Regions from separate parts of the Homo sapiens genome. Here region 1 is linked to region 2. Evidence: fine-mapped expression QTL. Tissue or cell type: whole blood. Region 2 holds a variant in brackets; the other region holds the start of a gene. All regions are shown on one strand. Distances are from middle to middle.

Region 1 (2,500 bases), 82 kb after region 2:
ACCCGGGCACCGCCCCCCGGGACCAAGCCTTCCGCGAAATCTGCTTATAGCCCCCGAGGGATGGAGCCGGGGAGGGGATTGGTGTCTGGGAAACTAGTCCTGAGAAACACGGACATCACCCGGCATCTTAGCTGGAAACATCGAGTCAGACCCCTTCGCTTCACAGAAGGGGAAACTGAGGACCAAAGAAGGCGGCCGTCGGGTTGGCGTGGAAAGAGAGCCCTGGTTTCCAGTGCCACCGCGGACCTCAACCCGTGGCGTGGCCTTGGGCAAGTCCTTTCCCTTTTGTGGGCCTCGGTTTCCCCATCTGTGAAATGGGTGCGTTTGACTTGGCCTTCAGTAGGGCTCCTGCCAGCTCGGGGATCCGAAGTGTGTGGCTGCAGATACCCAGCGAGCCATCCCCTAGCCAAGGCTACCACAGTCTGCCGCGGGCATTTTATGTCCTACCCCACCAGTGTGGCAGGCACCGAGCCTGGTCCCAGGAAGCCGCTCCCAGGCCACACGGGCAGGGCGCTCGGGATGCTCGGCGTTGGCGAGTGCAGCGGGCGGTAGAGAGAAAGACAGAGAGAGAGGCGGAGCGGACACGAGGGACCGTGAGAAAACGGAGGAGGATAAGCCCCGAGAACGGCGGAAAGAGAAGCCAAAAGCAGAAAAACAGAGGAAGGAGAAGGCGAGAAGGGAAGGCTAGCCAGTGAGCGGACCGGCTGTTTTCTGGCTGCGCCGGGTTTCCCCGACCTCTGCCACCTCCCAGGGCGCAGAACGTGGGAACAAAGCCCGGGCTCCCAGGCTGGGGACGGCGGGGGCGCAGGCCCCGCGGAGTTGCGGGAGGCGCAGGGGTCGCGGTCCCAGCGCTCCGGACCCGCAAGGCTACTCCCAGGTCTCCGGGCCACCCAGCCTCCATCCCCCCGCGCCTGGCCACTTACTTGTCCATCCAGGCTCCCGCGCCGCCCGCGGCCGGAGGGGCTGCAGGGCAAACGCCAGCAAGCAGAGCCGGGCGGCGCCTGCGCCCCCTGGCATGGTGGCGGCGGCCCTTAGCGCTCGGCGCTCACACGCCCTCAGCCATACCTGCCCACTGCCCGGCGGTGGAGGCGCGTCTGGAACCCCCCGGCTCGCCCCGCGCCTCCCCACCCGGCTCCCAGCCCTCTGCCGAGACGCTCCGCCTCCAGCCCCGCGGGCCTCCGCCAGGGGATGGAGGAGGGGAGGCTCCAGCCCGGAGGGGGCTGGAGGGAGGGGCCGGGGAGGAGCTGGCGAGACTCGGGGGAGCGGGGCTGGCTCAGGTGAGGGAGACCGCGGGGAAGGGAGAATCCGAGCCCCCCAGGAGGAGGGATTTGTGGTGGACGCGGCCTGTAGAGGGTCGGGGACTCGGGCTTCTAGGAGTTAAACTGGACCCCTCTCCGCACAGCGGCCCGTTTACTGTCCCGCACTGTGCCAGACGCCTTGGGTGACACTCAGAGGTGATTCACCCAGCGCCGTCCCCCGGGGGCCGCCACTCTCGGAGACAGGCTCAGAAAGAGTTAACCCAACCGCCAGGCACAAAGAACTAAGTGCTATATGGACTTCTTTTTTTTTTTTTTTTTTTTTTTTTTTTTTTTTTTTTAAGCAGGACACAAATCCAGGAGCCATTCCTTCTGCCTGGGAGGAGGGAGTGATGAAGACCAGAGGAATCCCAGAGGAGAAGCCATCTGAGATCGGGAGGAGGAGAAATGGAACATCAGGCGGAGGAAACAGCCCAGACAATCGCACTGGGACGTGAAAACCCTTGGGCTGCATGCGGGGAGAAAACCAGAATTGGGGATGGTTAGGGTTTTGGAGGGAAACACAGGGACATGTGACCAAAAATAATAATAACTACTGTTACTTATTGAGGACTTTCTATGTACTAGAATAAGAAAATCATGATAGCTAAGACTGATAAAACGCTAAGTGTCAAACGCTGTCTTCAGCACTTTACACATATTCACTTATTTAATTAATCGGAGAAAATAACTTTTATGAGCCAGGGACTCTGCATACATTATCTCTTTTCATTAGCCCAGTAATCCCATGGGGTAGGTACTAGTACTATCCCTGTTTTAGAAATGAGGAAATCAAACCTGAGAGGCTAAACCACTTGCCCAAGATTACACAGCTAATGTCAGTGCCTAGATTCAAACCCACATCCGTATAACTCCAGAGCCTGATGCAACACACCTTATTTTCCAGGTGGAGAAACTGATAATGAGAGAGAAATGACTTGCCTAAGATCCCTCAGCAAGTTTTAGCAAAGCCTCGTTGTAGAATCCCAGCCTCAAACCTCGTCCATCTGTTCCTTTTTCTGAGCCTCTTTAGTCAAACCCAGGTTGACTAGAGAAGTGCTAAGTGTTGGAGAGGGCGAGGCACTCCTGAAGATGATGGGTAGGTAGGTCTATCAAACCCTACTCATGGGCACCCATGAGGGAAATCAAATAAGTGGTTCTGGCCATTAATGTCGTTTGGGACTCCGTTAGTCTCCAGCTGCTGT
Region 2 (2,757 bases):
TGATGGTGACAGTACTCTGTGCCAGGTGCTATGCTAAATGCTTCATGTTTTCCATAGTTTCATTATCAGAATCGACTCTGGAGGATAGAGTCTGTGCTATTATTTTGCTCAGGCTTCCCTAACTCCTAGTCCATTTTTAATTCCTATGATAATTAGCGATGAGGATGAAAGTGGCACTAGCTAGGCCACCTAAGTGCTTTACTGGGATGATTTTCTTTAATCCTTCCGACAGTTCTCTGGGGTGGGTGCCTGCTGTCACTATACACGCTTCATGAAGGGAGCCACCAAGGCTCAGAGGTTGGCGAGGTGGCATCTGAGCCCAGGCATCCTTCCCTCAGACCTCACTTCTCAATCACTCTGCTCTGCAGCTGGCTCCTAGGTGAGCAGGGGAGGGGACTCACATGGTTGTAGCCACACTTGGTTCCAGTCATCACCAGCCCTGGGTCCAGCATGTCACCCTCCTCCTCAGGACCTCGGTAGACGTGGGTGCCCCGGCACTGGATCTGCCTCCCATTCATGATGATAGTGGTGTCAATGGGCACCGCGTTGGACTCCAGGGGCCGGGCCTCAGAGCTCTGACACTGGATCTTCCCACACTTCGCATCTCTGGGCACAAGAGACAGAGAGGGAAGGAAGCGGAATCAGAGGCAGAGGAAGAGCTGGGGCACCAGAGAGCTTCAGTCTTTCTTGATCAAGACAGCAGGCTTGCGTGGGGTGGGGCAAAGGTTTAGGGCAGTCATGTGCTTTGGAACCCACCAGGAGAGATTCCATGTGGACTGACACCAAGGGAAGAGAACAGGCTCCTTGACCCTGAGCAAATCTAGACCAGAGAACTGGCCTCGAAAAGTCCTTAACTCCAAGAATAGCCACCTGAGCTGAGCAATCTTTCCCTTTTTGCCCCTTATACCGCTGTCCACCCAGGAGTTCCAGCTAGAAATCTGGGGTCATCTCCAACTCCCCATTCTCCCTCACTCCTGGGCTCAAGCCATTTTCAAACCCTATCAATCTTCCCTCCTTAATTATCTATCTTATTATCTATCTACCTTAATTCACACTGCCCCACCCCCCTTACCTGGTCTGCAGAAGATTGATTTCCCTGCCTCCAGTCTGCCTCATAGGAGTCTAATTTTCACACTGCTCTCAAGCTAAAATCTAAACTCCCCTAGCCATGCATTTGAGGCTTTTCATGATCTGGTCCATGCTAAACTATCCAGGCTAATTTCTCAGCAGACCTTCTCCTTTGCACCCCAACATTATACTTTAACTGTATCAAACTGTTCTCAGTTCTTTCAACCACCAGTTTTTCTCTATTCATCTCTCTTCCTGGATTACTCTCCTATGCACCAGCACCACCTTCCACCCTGTTCACCGAGGTAACTGCTCCAGATCTCAGTGTAGGTATAACTTCCTTTGGGAAACCACTCTGACACACTAAGATGGGTTGGATGGCTCTCTCCACATTGCCATTGTCATACTATATTGTTAATTAGAAGTTCCATGCACTCAGCACAATATCTTGCACATGGTAAATCTTCAATAGATAGTAGATAGACAGTAAATCTTCAATAGATAGTAGATGGATAGATGGACGGACAGATGGATGGATGGATGGATGGATGAGTGGGTGAGTGGGTGGTGGAGGATGGATAGA[T/C]GGATGGATCAGTGGGTGAGTGGGTGGTAGATGGATGGATAGATGGATGGATGGATGGATGGATGGATGGGTAGACAGATGAGTGGATGGTTGGTTGGAATGAATGATGAATAAATGAATGAATGAGTGAATTAATGAATGAGGAGCTATTCAAATTAGGGCATGATTAGAATTTGGCAGAAATGACCCAAAAGGGCTGATTCCCTGCCCTACTGTAAGATGGTCCCCAAAGGAAGCCCGATCAGCTTTCTAGGAAGCACTGCCACCCACACCCTCCTCTGACTTCCTCAGAGCTGAAAAGTGCATTGTCAAACAGGGGGCCGAGAATAGATGACTGACTTCAACTGATTGACGTAAAGGTGCAGCTCTGGGGCCAGTCACACTGCTGAGTTGGGCAACAGTGAGGACAGAGCAGAAACTGCTTGTTCATCCTCATTTCATGAGGCCTGCCCTTTGGTCATCACCTCATGTTGCACTTCCTGTGTTCACCATTCATGTCCTTTCCACAGTTTCCAAAGGTGTCTCCTGCCACATTCACCTTCTCGAAGCAGAGGTCAGGGGCAGGTCGGGCTCCTGGGTGGGCAAGCAACATCTATCAGTATACTCATCTGTCAGAAGCCCCCAAGGGCAAAGGTATCTTTGGTAAAGTCATGAAGGTAAGAATATTTTCTGGGAGGGAATACTCAGCCTCTTCTTCCTGTTCCCTCCAGGTTACTCCATCCCCATATTCTCAACAAGATCTACTCAGAGAATAATGTTTTATATAAATCCTTTTTTTTTTCTTTCAGATGGATTCTCGCTCTGTCACCCAAGCTGTAATACAGTGGCACAATCACGGCTCATTGCATCCTCCGCCTCTTGGGTTCAAGCAATTCTCTACCTCAGCCTCCCGAGTAGCTGGGATGACAAGCACCCACCACCATGACTGGCTAATTTTTGTATTTATTTATTTATTTTTTTTGTAGAAATGGGGTTTCACCATCTTGGCCAGGCTGGTCTTGAAGTCCTGACCTCATGATCCCCCCGCCTCGGCCTCCCAAAGTGCTGGGATTACAGGCGTGAGCCACCACACCTGGCCTGTTTTATGTAAATTCTTCCTACCTTAT

What was found. PIP is the estimated chance that this variant, and not a neighbour inherited with it, causes the effect.
Region 1: ADAM19 starts here. The variant in region 2 is fine-mapped to the expression of ADAM19 in whole blood (INTERVAL, PIP above 0.99).

The regions. Positions count from the first base shown.
Region 1 is chr5:157,574,680-157,577,179 of GRCh38, forward strand. It overlaps ADAM19 (ADAM metallopeptidase domain 19), which reads right to left and starts at 1,096. Exons shown (of 23, transcript NM_033274.5): 1 at 924-1,096. The coding sequence starts at 1,017. It overlaps LOC124901121 (a long non-coding RNA gene), which reads left to right and starts at 300. Exons shown (of 2, transcript XR_007059018.1): 1 at 300-691; 2 at 1,601-1,931. RefSeq lists enhancers at 1-321, 558-637, 2,495-2,500 and a silencer at 808-1,247.
Region 2 is chr5:157,492,572-157,495,328 of GRCh38, forward strand. It overlaps ADAM19 (ADAM metallopeptidase domain 19), which reads right to left. Exons shown (of 23, transcript NM_033274.5): 15 at 2,116-2,224; 16 at 402-606. Among named protein-coding and RNA genes, the nearest start is that of NIPAL4, 34 kb to the left of the region's middle. The variant T/C (reference allele first, on the strand shown) is at 1,652.